Linked DNA regions of Homo sapiens. The protein of the gene in region 1 purifies or fractionates together with the protein of each later gene. This does not show direct contact. Each region holds a gene or a part of one and is shown on either strand. Other genes may lie near its edges.

Region 1 (5,540 bases):
ATGCTTTTCTTTTATTTCCACAGCCTGGGCAACATAACAAGACCCTGTTTCTACAAAAAATAAAAAATCAGCTGGGTATGGTGGTGCACGCCTGTAGCCCTAGCTACTCAGAAGGCTGAGGCAGGAGGATCACCTGAGCCCAGGAGTTCAAGGTTACATTGAGCTATGATTATGCTACTGCACTCCAGCCTAGGTGACAGAGCAAGACCCTGCCTCAAAAAAAAAAAAAAGATTGCTACAAGTACAATTAAAAGTAAGATGTCCGTTATTCACAGCTTTGTGGAAATATAAAAACAAATAACAAAGTCCAGAGTCTGTATAGCAAAAAGCATAACAGAAAAAAACATTAAACACTAAAGAGAATAAAATGAGAAAAGGCAGATAAAATAAATGTGAACTGTTTACATTCCTTTATTAAAACAGAGAATCAAATTGGATTTAGAAAGATTAAAAATAAAGATGGACAAAATATATCAGCCAAATGAGAAGGGGGAACAGAATTTAGGACTAAAAAAGTAGATAAAAAGAGTTATTTCAATATTTTATCAAAATATGAACTGCAAAAACATACAAAATATGAGTAGAGGTAAATAGACAACAGACAATTGTATTGAATTAAATGAATCTTAATTGCATTAAGAGCATGAAGTCATTATTATTTGAAGCACTGTTAGAGAATCTAAGAACTTATGAGGAATATAGTATTGAGCGTAATTGAGGTTAAAAGTAAATCTATGATAACAATTGTTTGACCAATTAACAAAATTTGATTATGGACTACAATTGAAAGTATTCTATCAGTGTTAGATTTCCTGAGTTTGACTACTGTACTGTGGTTATATAAGAGAAAATCTTTGTTCTTAGGAAATACATACTGAAATATTTAGGGGTAAAGGAACATAATATATACAACTTATTCTCAAATGGTTCAGGAACAATACTATATGTGACTGTTGTGTGTGGGAGAGATATAAAAGGGAAGAGAGAATGATAAATGTGGCAGAATTTTTTAAATTGGTGAATACTTGTGAAATGCTCTTTGAATTGTTCTTGTAACTTTTCTGTAATTTTGAAGTCATTTTAAAATAAAAAAATTAATACAACAACAAAAAAAGTAAATCTATGATAACAAACCAAAAATGAAATTTTAAAACAATTATATTTATAATAGCATCAAAAAGAAAATCATACTTAGGAACAAATTTAACAAAAGAAATACAAAAGTTACACTCTGAAAACTACAAAATATTACTTAAGGAAATTAAGTAAGACCTACATACACAGAAAGACATCATATGTTCATGGATTAGAAGATTTAATATTTTTAAGATGGCAATATTCTCTAAATAGATTTACAGTTGATGCAATCTTATCAAAATCTCAGCTGGCTTCCTTGCAGAAGTTGACAACCTGATCTTAAAATTCATATGGAAGTTAATGGGACCCATAATACCCCAAACAATATTTAAAAAATAAAATGAAATTGGAGGACTCACACTGCCTGATTTCAAAACTTACTACCAAGCTGTAGTATCAAGAAATGTGGAATTGACATAGGGCTAGATATATAAAGAAATGGAATATAACTGAGAGTCTAGAAAAAAACGCTCACACTTATGGGAAATTGATTTTCAACAGGGTGCCAAAACAATTCACTGGAGAAAATAATAATCTTTTCAACAAATGGTGCTGGAACAACTAGATATTCACACACAAAAACATGAAGTTTGGCCCCTACCTCATAACATATACAAAAACTAACTCAAAGTGGATTAAAAACCTAAATGCAAGGGCTAAAACTATGTAGCTCTTTGAAGAAAATATAGATGTATATCTTCATGACTTTGGATTAGGCAATAGTTTCTTAGATAGGACAACAAAACCATAAGAACCAAAGAAACTATAGATTGAATATCATCAAAATTTAAAACTTTTAAATTTTGTGCTGCAAACAACACTATCAAGAAAGTGAAAAGACAACCCACAGAATGGGAGAAAATTTTTGGAAATCATATATCTGAAAAGGGAATATATAAGGAATCATTGCAACTCAATCATAAAAAGGTAAACCCATTTAAAAAATGGGCAAAGAGGCCAGGCGTGGTGGCTCACGCCTGTAATCCCAGCACTTTGGGAGGCCGAGGCAGGTGGATCACCTGAGGTCAGGAGTTCGAGACCAGCCTGGCCAACATGGTGAAAGCCCGTCTCTACTAAAAATACAAAATTAGCCGGGTGTGGTGGCACATGCCTGTAATCCCAGCTACTCCGGAGGCTGAGGCAGGAGAACTGCTTGAACTCAGGAGGTGGAGGTTGCAGTGAGCCAAAATCACGCCATCACACTCCAGCCTGGGCAACAAGAGCAAAACTCCACCTCAAAAAAAAAAAAAAAAAAAAATGGGCAAAGGATCTGAACAGGCATTTTTCCAAAAAAGATCCACAAATGCCCACTAAACACATGAATAGATTTTCAAAACCATCAGCCATCAGGGAAATACAAATCAAAACCTCAATGAGATACTACTTCACACTCATTAGGAAGGCTATAATAAAAGATAGGGAATAAAAAGTGTTGGCAAGGATGTGGAGAAATTGGAATCACCATATATTGCTGGTGGAAATGTAAATGGTCCAGCTACTTTGGAAAACAGTCTGGCAGTTCATCAAATGGTTAAACATAGACATACAAGTGACCCAGCAATTTTGCTCCTAGGTATATAACCAAAAGAAATTAAAAACAAGTCCACACCAACACTTGTCCATGAATGCTCACAGCAGCATTATTCATAATGTCAAAAAGTAAAAACAATCCAAATATTCATCAACTGATGAATAAAATGTGGTATATACATTCAATGGGATATATGCTATGAAATGAATGTCCAGAATTGGCAAAACTGTGGGGACAGAAAGTAGATTGGTGTTTTCCTAGGACTCAGAACGGTGGGGGCCATGTAGGGAGGAAATGGGGAGTGCCCATTAATAGGTATGAGGTTTCTTTTCAGGGTGATAAAATGTTCCAAAATTGATTGTGGTGGTGGTACACAATCCTGTGAATATACTAAAACCACTGAATTGTCGACTTTAAGTTGGTGAATCGTATGATATGTGAATTGTGTCTCCAGATAATAAGATCAACAACTATGGATTTGAATCTCAACTTCAACACTTACCAACTGAGAGACTTTAACAATTGAGTTATTTAACAGTAAATAATACCAACCTCCTTGGATGGTTGGAGAACTGAATTAACATCTGTAAGGTGATTAGAATAGTGTGCGAACCAATGTCCACTATAAGCCTGTGTGTTAACTAACTAAAGCCACCAGCACTTCCTTTCATTAAACACTTACCGTATTCGTTTTCTTTGCCTGCTATAACAAATTACCATAAAAAAACTCAGTGGTTTAAAACAAGACACATTTATTCTCTTACAGTTCTGGAAGTCTGAAGGCTGAAATCAGTTTCACTGGACTGAAATCAAGGTGTTGGTAGGACTAAGCTCCTCTCTACCCATCAGAGAATATTATGGTTGGAGATAAATTACCATATAATTGAAAAGACTGGATTGATTAATAAATATCCAATTTTATATCCTAAAAACATACAGCTTCTTCACAAGTGTTCATAGATTTACACAAACCCATCATATGCTTAGTTACAAGGAAACCTCAGAAATTATAAAGCCATATTCTCTAACCATCATGGAAAAAATGAAAAATTAATTATAATGGCAAACAAAAATAAAAATCATTTACAATCTTTTAGAAGTAATATTCTGGGCTACAGAGAATAAAAATGTGATGTCAAACTATTTAGAAAACGATGACACCACATATAAAAATGTGTTGGATCTATTCACAGTAAGAACAGATTCAGAAAAACTATCAGAGGCCGGGTGTGGTGGCTCACACCTGTAATCCCAGCATTTTGGGAGGCCTAGGCAGGCAGATCACTTGAGTCCAGGAGTTTGAGACCAGCCTGGGCAACATGGTGAAACCCCGTCATAACAAAAATAAATAAATAAATAAATAAATACAGAAAAACTATTATAAGTATGGCAGGAAAACTTGAATACTTTTATATGATAAAGCATGCACATAAGTTGATTAAAAACATCAAATCCAAATAAGTATTATAATAAACAGGAAAAGGATGTAAAAAGTATACAAAAGAAGTATATCGTGAAAAATGTCAAATTTACTGTAATTAAGAAATACAAACTAAAACAATCTAAAAATTGATAAAATTATTTAAAAACAAAAACACCAAAGCTGTCAGGGATGCCACAAAACAGGAACTGCTTTTGAGAGCATGAAGGGCCCAACCTTTGGGAATGCAACCTGGCAACAGTAATCAAGAACTTTAAAAAACATTAACAAGTTTCAATCTAGTAAGTCTATTTCTGGGATCCTGTCCTCAGAGTGCAATCCTACATATGGAAAAAACTTCCTGCACAAAGACATTTATTGGAAATGGAAACATCCTCAATATTCAATAACAGGAGAACTGTTAAATAAACTATGTGACTATAAAAATTACGCTAACAAAGACCACGCTATAAAATGGAAAATACATGTGCTTCACTGCTACAGTAAAACCAGGCTTTAAAACTGCATATATAGCCTAATGATCATGGTGCCATCTCATAACTTTTCAAGGTCCTATTCAAGTGAATGCCAAATGAGAGAAACAACCCAGGCATAGTAAAAAAAAAAAAAAAAAACTGCCAGGAAATGGCACCAAAATATTACAAGTGATTGTTTTTCTTCCCTACTGTAATCTATAGTATCATGTTTTCTTTAATGGGCATGTGCTATGTTACTTGTATCCTCACGGACATAAAGCAATGCTTTACATCCTTCCTATGAATCAAAAGGAAACACTTCTTTTTTTTTTTTTTTTTTGCTTCTTTTTAAATTTTTTTAAACCAAGCAGTGGTTATGGAAGGAAACACCTCTTTGTGTAACAGGGCATGTACTGCCACTGTCGGTCTCTAAAGTCACTTTGATGATCTAACAAAAACAGCATGTTTCATACATGTTAGACAACCTCTACTCTGGATTTTTTTCTCCAACAACTTATTTTCTCTTCACAACCCCCTCAAGTTTTCAAGCCTAAAGAAATTCCATCGGTTCTCTCTGCACCCACTTTCCTTGCTTTGCTCCTAGAATTATTCCCACCTTTCTTCTGCAGAGCGTAGACAATGCCTCAGGCACACTGTTGCCAGTCTCAGAGCCCTGAGTCCCTGCTACCTCTAGCTCCCTGGGACTCCAACACCCAGCACAAGATTCTGCAGGCAGCCACACATTCTGCTCCAGTACTTCTCAAGTTGAAGGCAGAGAATAAGGGAAGTTTAGGGAAGCTTGGAGCCATGGAGAAAAGGTGGAGACATGCAGGAAATCTAACACAAGGCCTTTTTGTGTAACAGTAGTTTTTGTGTGCTGAAGATTCCAGTTTCTAGGATTTGGCAAATTGGGAGCCTCAATTTCCTGTTCTAGGGCATATATTTGCTGAATGAATAAATGAATTAGGCTTCCCAT
Region 2 (4,612 bases), on another chromosome or scaffold:
AATCCCAGCACTTTGGGAGGCGAAGGCGGGTGGATCATGAGATCAGGAGATCGAGATCATCCTGGCTAACATGGTGAAACCCTGTCTCTACTAAAAATACAAAAAATTAGCCGGGTGTGGTGGCGGCCGCCTGTAGTCCCAGCTACTCGGGAGACTGAGGCAGGAGAATGGCGTGAACCCGGGAGGCGGAGCTTGCAATGAGCCGAAATCATGCCACTGAACTCCAGCCTGGGTAACAGAGCGAGACTGTCTCAAAAAAAAAAAAAAAAAGAGTTTAAGAACCACCAGATCACCTGAAGAGACTCTCTTGTTTCCCTTAAAGTTCCAAATCTCTCCAGTATCTCCTCCTTAGTGCCTGCTTCTGCTGTTCCCTCGAGTCCTCCAGGTTGTTTTGCTCATGGAAAAAGGCATTAGGCTGCCTCAGCCTTTTCAGGAGATGAGGCCTCTGCTCTTAGGTAGGTTGAGGGCACGAATCTAGCTCTGAACAGGTGTCTTTCATATCCTGATGCAGACGGTGAACCTGCTCCTCAACAAGGGAGCCAGCCTGAATGTCTGTGACAAAAAGGAGCGGCAGCCTCTGCATTGGGCAGCTTTTCTAGGTGAGAGAGAATACACGGGAAAATCAGAAATTTGACATTTAGGATTCCTAGGGCAGGGATGTGGGGTTGCAGCCTTTGAAGAGAGGAGTGTAGGGTCTTAGAGTTTACCTTCTACTTCCTTTAGAGTGTCTTCTCTTTTCTCAGGGCACTTGGAGGTCCTAAAACTGCTGGTGGCACGGGGAGCAGACCTCGGCTGCAAGGACCGCAAGGGCTATGGGCTGCTCCATACAGCTGCTGCCAGTGGCCAGATTGAAGTGGTGAAGTACCTGCTTCGGATGGGAGCGGAGGTCAGGGCTTTGAGCTCTGGGGTTGGGAACTATGGGCAGCAAGTAGGAGATTATAGTCTGTTACGGAGATATGAGGTATTGGGATGTTGGTATAGTTTTGGGAAGTTGGAAGGACGTGGTAGAGAGGGTCTGAATAATGCTTACCTTAGCCATAGTGCCCTTAGTACCTTAGTACCTTGGGTCATAAACCCGAGAGGAAATGAGGCAGTCGTTGGATTTCTGGGATCTGGAGGCTACATGTGCTGGCTTCTACTTTGTTTAAACTGATACCACCTTACTCTCACCCCTGAATATCCAGATCGATGAACCCAATGCTTTTGGAAACACAGCTTTGCACATCGCCTGCTACCTGGGCCAGGATGCTGTGGCTATTGAGCTGGTGAATGCCGGAGCCAATGTCAACCAGCCGAATGACAAGGGCTTCACGCCACTGCATGTGGCTGCAGTCTCCACCAATGGCGCTCTCTGCTTGGAGCTACTGGTTAATAATGGGGCTGACGTCAACTACCAGGTGCCTGAAGGGATAAGGCTTAGACCAGTGGGGAGCGAAACTTGGATCTAGGGGTCCTGACTGTATCTGGATAGCTCTCTTGGGGAATTATCCACTTGCTTCCTAGGGTAATCAGACCTTGCCAGGGACTCAGGAAAGAGTGGGCTAAGAAGGTGCCATATGACCCTTTTGTCCTTAGAGATATGTCCTTGGAAGGGAGGTAGGGCATTCTCTGTGCTTTGCACTGGAAAAAAAAACAAAAACAAAAACCCACCATGTTTCCACAGAGCAAAGAAGGGAAAAGTCCTCTGCACATGGCTGCAATCCATGGCCGTTTCACACGCTCCCAGATCCTCATCCAGAATGGTATGGACCTGGGAGACTTTGTGCTCTCATCCCCTCCTCCCCCAAGGAACTCATTTCTAGAATCTAGGGAGGTTCCTAACTTCCTTCTCCTGCCCTCTTCCAGTAGGATAGGCCCTTGGAACTCTGACCAAGGGACCTGTGGAAATGGCCCTGCTCTGCCCTGCCCAGTCTCCTAAGGCCTAGAAACAGGATAAAATATGTAGAATCCTGGGCCTGGCACCTGATGCATACATAGTAGGCACTCAAATCATGGCTAGCTCGCGAAAGTGGTCTTAAGCCTGAGGTCTGCCTGAGCTTGTGTGTGTGCATCCCCTCACAGGCAGCGAGATTGATTGTGCCGACAAATTTGGGAACACGCCACTGCATGTGGCTGCTCGATATGGACACGAGCTGCTCATCAGCACCCTCATGACCAATGGCGCAGATACCGCCCGGTGAGTCAGGGCCCCGACTCCACTTCTGGGCTGCCCAGATCTGCACAGACTGCTCACATCAACCATGGAGGCACAGATAAGCTTGCCAAAGGGCACCTTGGAGAACCTCCTACCCTGACTCTAGGGTGGTGGTAGGTCACAGAAGAGGTCTTACTTGGTCCCTCCTTGACCCAAGGACTGAGTCCCTCAACTTCTCTCTAGGCGTGGCATCCATGACATGTTCCCCCTGCACTTAGCTGTTCTCTTTGGATTCTCTGACTGTTGTCGTAAGCTTCTTTCCTCAGGTATGTGCTGATGGGCTGGGGATTGGCAGGTGTATAGGAGAGCAAAGGCCTTTCCCTCCCTGCTGAACACTCTCAGATGTGACCTGTGGCTGTTCTGTGCCTCCAGGTCAGTTGTACAGCATTGTGTCTTCACTCAGCAATGAGCATGTGCTTTCAGCTGGGTTTGACATCAATACACCTGACAACCTTGGCCGTACCTGTCTTCATGCTGCTGCTTCCGGAGGGTGAGTTCTCTTTCTCTCTCCCATGCTTTGAGCAGGGAGCTGGGCAAAGGTCTGGGCCCCTCATTCTTGCCTGCCCAGATCTATTCCCCCTCTCACAATGAAAGCAGTCACAGCAGAAAGGGCTTGCTAGTCCCATCCTTCCTTAGCCCCACCCTGGGCCTGTGGCTTCCCTTTGAGGCTGTAACTCTCTTAACACATCTTTCTTTTAGGAATGTTGAATGTCTTAATTTGCTGTTGAGCAGTGGAGCTGACTTGAGGAGGAGGGACAAATTTGGCAGGTATGCTAATATGCAGGGGTAAACATAGGGAATATCTGATTAGAGAAACAAATGGTAGAGGGAGGAAGGGTTTAGATTGGAGACTTAAATAAGGAGAATGTTACAAAGCAGCATTTGGCTGCACATCTGATTGCATTCGTATCTGTCTCTGATTCTCTTCCCCACCCTCCTTCACTTCTTCCCCAGGACCCCACTGCACTATGCAGCTGCTAACGGTAGCTACCAGTGTGCAGTAACATTGGTGACTGCTGGGGCAGGTGTCAACGAGGCCGACTGTAAAGGCTGCTCTCCCCTCCACTACGCTGCCGCTTCTGACACTTACAGGAGGTGAGGCTACCAGTCTGGTCCTTCTCAGCCCCATTCACCTCCCTGAGCCTGGCCCTAACTTTCTCTCTCTCTTCCCCAGAGCGGAACCCCATACACCTTCCAGCCATGATGCCGAAGAGGACGAGCCACTGAAGGAGTCCCGCAGGAAGGAGGCCTTCTTGTGAGTAGCAGAGAGGGCCCCTGGGATGTGCTTTCCCCAACCCATGCAAGCTCTGGCCCTACTGTCCTCCTACCTAATCTGAACCTCTACCCTATACTGCTGCTGTCCTGCCGGTCAGCCAGCAGTGTGTCTTGAGCCCTCTGGGTGTAGTCCATAGTGGGCAAAGACAAAAGTATGAGATTGAAGCTCAGGAGCTTCAGGGGGAAAAAAAAACCCAAAAGTATGAGACATAGTTCCTTCCCTAAAGGAATGGATTTTTTTTTTTTTTTTTTTTTTGGAGACAGAGTCTCACTCTGTTGCCCAGGCTGGAATGCAGTGGTGTGATCTCAGCTCACCGCGCCCGGCTGGTCTTCTTGAGAGGATTAGAAAAGCTAAATGTACAAAATAATTTGTTTATTCCACAAGCATTAATTAAATATTTACTTACTAGGTTCCAAGTACTGTGCTAGATACTAAGGATAAAAGATGAGGCTGGGCGTAGTGGCTCAAGCTTGTAATCCTAGCACTTAGGGAGGCTGAGGTAGGCAGATCACCTGAGGTTAGGAGTTCAAGACCAGCTTGACCAACATGGTGAAACCCCGTCTCTACTAAAAATACAAAAAATTAACCAGGTGTGGTGGCACACGCCTATAATCCCAGCTACTCAGGAGGCCGAGGCAGGAGAATTGCTTGAACCAGGGAGGTGGAGGTTGTAGTGAGCCGAGATCACGCCACTGCACTCCAGCCTGGGCAACCGAACAAGACTCTGTCTCAAAAAAATTAAAATTAAAAATAGGCCGGGTGTGGTGGTTCACGCCTATAATCCCAGCACTTTGGGAGGCCGAGGCAGGCAGATCATCTGAGGTCAGGAGTTCGAGACCAGCCTGGCCAACGTGGTGAAACCCCGTCTCTACTAAAAATATAAAAATTAGCTGGTCATGTTGGCAGGCACCTGTAATCCCAGCTACTCGGGTGGCTAAGGCAGGAGAATCACTTGAACCAGGGAGGTGGAGGTTGCAGTGAGTCAAGATCACACTAATCCACTCCAACCTGGGCGACAGAGTGAGACTCTGTCTCCAAAAAAACAAATAAATAAATAAAATTAAATAAAAATTTAAAAAGGATGAATTGTCCCAAATTTCTGTCTTTCGAAAGCTAATAATCTATTGGGAAAGATAAATAAA
Region 3 (4,612 bases), on another chromosome or scaffold:
ACGTGGCTTCCAGCAAGTAGTGAACCTTTGGTTTCTCTCCCTCGGCACCTGTTGCCTAGGAGTGGTCCGCAGACCTGAATCGAACCCTCAGCCGGAGAGAGAAGAAGAAGGCCACTGACGGCGTCACCCTGACGGGCATCAACCAGACAGGCGACCAGTCTCTGCCGAGTAAGCCCAGCAGGTGAGTGGGCGCCACCTCCATCCAAAAGAGGCCGTTCCATGGTGGGGGCCCTGGGCAATCTGCATGGTCCAGGGCAGCCCCGGCCTGGACACCTGGGAGGTTCCTGGGCTCCTGAGCTCTGTGGGCCGTGGCCCAGCCTGGACACCTGGGAGGTTCCTGGGCTCCTGAGCTCTGTGGGCCGTGGCCCAGGGGCATCTCCAGGGAAGGTCGTCTTCCTGCCTGGTGCCAGAGCTGCTGACAGATCCAGAGAGGGAGGCTTGGCCCTGAGCTTCAGACCTGAGTGGGGAGGAGCTGATGACAGGGCTGGCATTCATGTCCCCAGGGATAGCACCGCCCTGCCCGGACACTGGTGGAGGTGCCACCCTGGTTCCCTCAGGCAGCTGAGGTCCTGCCGAGGTTCATGCTCACTCTGTATTGTGTGCAGGCGCCAGTCGAGGGAGGGACAGGAGAGGACTGCCAGGCATCTCCTTTCCAAATTACCTCTTCACTAGGAGCATTGGTTATTTCTGACTTAGTCATTGGCTGAAAATGAGAGATATAAGGGTGGCACTGTGGTCATTAGAACCTTCTGGAAAGTGTGTGCTAGAGGAGGTCTTCCTATAGGACCTGCCCACAGGCCTCCATGTGACACTCAGTAATAGTCATTTCATACGGGGGCTTCCTAAGAAGGCTTAGCCCAGGTTCCCTTGGCCTTCCTGCAGCCCCAGGCACTGAAGCCCCCACCCAGGCTCCCCAGCAGGTGTGGCTGTCGTCATTCCGCTGCTTTGCACGCTGTCTGGGCAGGTGGGCTCGGCAGTAAGTGCCTGTCCCAGGGATCAGGCCAGCACCTGTATGCTTGGGGGTGGGAATGGGAAAGAAGAAACACTGCCTCAGAGGAGACCCTGGGGGCCCTGGGCTGGCCAGGGTTGCTGCACAATCCAGCCGCCCCCACCAGTGCCGTCTCACAACAGTCTGCTAGAGAAAGGTGCCAAGGAGGGAGGAGGGCCGGTGAGCTCAGACATGTGGCCTGGATATTGGCCTCCAGCAGGCCTAGGTCAAGTACCACTTGCCAGGCTGAAGTGGATGAGGCAGTTACTGGCCACTCAGGATCACCCTGGTGGCATTGGAGGCATGTCCTCGCCTCCCTTCCTTGGTTCTGGGGTGGTGGGTGCTCAGGCTGAGCAGTCCATCCAGTGCTTTGGGGGCCTGTGCCCTGAGGCCCTGGTCTTGGAAGTAGAAGGTGCTGCTGGCCAGGGTAGCCCGGTCCTAGGATCAGTTACTTGGTGGGGTGCCAGGGCCCTTGGTGCCTGTCTGATTGGATTGCTTGATGGTCTGCCTGTGGTCTTCGTAGTGTGTAACTCAGCTCCCGGCTCCCAGCCCTCAGGCAGAGCTTGGCCCAGATCTCTCTGGTTCCCACACTGGGCCTGGCAAACAGTAGGCAGTTGCACGACTGGATTTTCCCTCTGGAGCACCAAAGGAATCTTCTTTCTATCTAGAAAAGACGGTGCCGCAGGCCCTGGCCCTGATTTTGGAGGCTTCAGCTCCACAGAGCAGAAGAGCGAGCCCTGAACCCCTTAGTAGTCAGGAGGAGGCCGTGTGGGCTGAAGAGCTCAGAGCCCTCTCCCACTCATCCATGGGAGCCGGCCCCTCCCACACTGTCACTCTCAGAGGAGACCCTGAGGGGCTTTTTGACCCCCCCAGCTCACATTGGTGGGAGTCAGGACAGAGGAGAAGCCCTGAACCTGGAAACGACTTTTGCTCCAGCTGTGGCTTGTCACCCGCCCCTGGGCCACCCCAGGGCCCCTGTTCTGGACGGACTGTCTCCAGGTGCAAGGAAGGAAAAGGGAAACCAAGTCCTCTCCTAGGCTCCTGGACCGTGTTTCACAGCTGAAGTATTGCCCGCATTCTGCCATAGTAACCTTTCTGTTGAAACACCACGGTCCCCTCCGGTCACAGGAGGAGCTGATTTGTCTCTTGAGATCCTGCAGCTAGGAGTTGCCAGGACCCTCACGGGCCCCTGCAGAGCTGGGATCCCCTGAAAGCTCTCTCTCTCCATAGCACCCTTAATGTCCCGAGCAACCCCGCCCAGTCTGCGCAGTCACAGTCCAGCTACAACCCCTTCGAGGATGAGGACGACACGGGCAGCACCGTCAGTGAGAAGGACGACACTAAGGCCAAAAAGTTGGTGAACAAATGCTTCCTCTGCTCCCACCGCGCTCACTCTGTCTCTCTTCCTCTCTCTCTGTCCAGGGGTCTCACCCCTCGGCACTCGGCAATGCACGGAGCTCTGCAGGAAGTGGGCACCTGGCGTGCCGCACCCTGGCCCACTACCTGCTCTCTGGCACAGGCTCTCTGGCACCCCCATTCCTCGGGGAGGGCACAGCTAACAATCTTAAGTTGCTTTTTCTCTGTCCTCTGTTAACCCTTCAAGGCCCTAGCAGCACCATGACAGGAAAACAGACAACGCGCAGTCTGTGCTGGGGACTAGAGAGTGAGGCCCCAGGTTGGCCTCTGCTGTGGGCATCTCCAGCCGCCTGCCCCTGGAAAGCCTGTTGATGGCTCAGGATGAGTGTGGATGGCATGAACTCACACTAGCACTGGCTCCACCTGTGCTCCTTCGGAAGGAGCCCTCAGCCCTGAGCCCCAAGGCTCCAGTGCCCTCCCCTTGCGGGGCGGGGGCCTCACACCCTCTGCCGCCCTGTGCTGAGGGCCCTGTGGCCTCCCCTTTCTTGCAGTGTGAGCAGCTACGAGAAGACCCAGAGCTATCCCACCGACTGGTCAGACGATGAGTCTAACAACCCCTTCTCCTCCACGGATGCCAATGGGGACTCGAATCCATTCGACGACGACGCCACCTCGGGGACGGAAGTGCGAGTCCGGGCCCTGTATGACTATGAGGGGCAGGAGCATGATGAGCTGAGCTTCAAGGCTGGTAGGTGGGCTCCCCCAGCATCCAGGGGAGGAGGGCTTCCAACCTGCAGGCTGTGGGCGGTCTTTTTTGTTTTTTAAGTCTGGAAAAGTTCTTGCTAGTTTCACTTGTGAGTCACTGCAGGCCCTTCCCCAGTGCCCTGGCTTCATTGTCAAAAGCAGCCAATTGGCTGGATGTGGTGGCTCATGCCTATAGTCCCAGAGCTTTGGGAGGCCGAGGTGGAAGGATCGCTTGAGCCCAGGAGTATGAGACCAACCTGGGCAAAATGGCAAAACCTGTCTCTACAAAAAATACAAAAAATTAGGCCAGGCATGGTGGCTCACGCCTGTAATCCCAGCACCTTTGGGAGGCCAAGGCAGGCAGATCACTTGAGGTCAGGAGTTCGAGCCCAGCCTAACCAACATGGTGAAACCCTGTCTCTACTAAAAATACAAAAATGAGCCAGGCGTGTGGCGGGGCATCTATAATCACAGTTACTCAGGAGGCTGCGGCAGGAGAATCACTTGAACCTGGGAGGTGGAGGTTGCAGTGAGCCAAGGTCACACCACTGTACCCCAGGCTGGGTGACAGAGCAAGACTTTGTGTCAAAAAAAAAAAATTAGCTGGGCTAATTTTAGTGGCACATGCCTGTAGTCCCAGCTCTCTGGGAGGCTGAGGTGGGAGGATCACCTGAGCCCAGTAGATTGAGGTTGCAATGAATCATGATTGTACCACTATACTCCAACCTGGACAACAGAGCGAGACCCTGTCGCAAACAAACAAACAAATAAATAACCTGGGCAACAGAGCGAGATCCTGTCTCAAATAAATAAACAAACAAAAGTAGCAGATTAGCTGGGCGTGGTGTTGCATACCTATAGTCCCAGCTGCTTGGGAGGCTGAGGCAGAGGATCACTTAAACCCAAGAGGATACAGTGAGCCATGTTCATACCACGTACTCTAGCCTAGAAGAGAGAGCAAGACCCCATCTCTTAAAAAAAAAAAAAAGTAGGCTGGGCATGGTGGCTCACGCCTGTAATCCCAGCACTTTGGGAGGCCGAGGCACACAGATCACGAGGTCAGGAGATTGAGACCATCCTGGCTAAGAGTGTGAAACCCCGTCTCTACTAAAAATACAAAAAATTAGCCGGGCGTGGTGGCAGCCGCCTGTAGTCCCAGCTACTCGGGAGGCTGACGCAGGAAAATTGCTTGAACCCGGGAGGCGGAGCTTGCAGTGAGCCGAGATTGCGCCACTGCACTCCAGCCTGGGCGACAGAGCAAAACTCTTTTTCAAAAAAAAAAAAAAAAGCGGATGCCCAATGCCAAGACTCAGAAATAGTGAGGTGCTGCCAAGCCAGTGCCTGGACTCCTCACCTTGCTGGGCCAAGGCTGTGAATTGCAGGGCACTGGCTAGTCACACAGAAGGGCATCTGGAGAAGCTGTTGGCCAGGACCACCAGGTTCCCCCATATGTAGTCTGGGAGCTGCTAGCCCCGCAGGGCCATGAGAGAAGCCTTTCTCTAGGGGTCCCCAACTGCCAGAGAA

Evidence for each region.
Region 2: the proteins of ENTPD1 (region 1) and ANKRD52 purify together in Homo sapiens (affinity purification with mass spectrometry; one large-scale study listed by BioGRID and IntAct). This does not show direct contact.
Region 3: the proteins of ENTPD1 (region 1) and PACSIN2 purify together in Homo sapiens (affinity purification with mass spectrometry; one large-scale study listed by BioGRID and IntAct). This does not show direct contact.

The regions. Positions count from the first base shown.
Region 1 is NC_000010.11:95,761,574-95,767,113, reverse strand, and holds part of ENTPD1 (ectonucleoside triphosphate diphosphohydrolase 1), read right to left. Parts: intron 1-5,540.
Region 2 is NC_000012.12:56,250,852-56,255,463, reverse strand, and holds part of ANKRD52 (serine/threonine-protein phosphatase 6 regulatory ankyrin repeat subunit C), read left to right. Parts: intron 1-511; coding exon 512-599; intron 600-743; coding exon 744-886; intron 887-1,184; coding exon 1,185-1,397; intron 1,398-1,663; coding exon 1,664-1,742; intron 1,743-2,061; coding exon 2,062-2,176; intron 2,177-2,377; coding exon 2,378-2,460; intron 2,461-2,566; coding exon 2,567-2,684; intron 2,685-2,893; coding exon 2,894-2,962; intron 2,963-3,148; coding exon 3,149-3,289; intron 3,290-3,368; coding exon 3,369-3,449; intron 3,450-4,612. UniProt on the Homo sapiens protein: Putative regulatory subunit of protein phosphatase 6 (PP6) that may be involved in the recognition of phosphoprotein substrates.
Region 3 is NC_000022.11:42,874,617-42,879,228, reverse strand, and holds part of PACSIN2 (protein kinase C and casein kinase substrate in neurons protein 2), read left to right. Parts: intron 1-59; coding exon 60-181; intron 182-2,218; coding exon 2,219-2,341; intron 2,342-2,895; coding exon 2,896-3,092; intron 3,093-3,698; exon of another isoform or gene 3,699-4,612.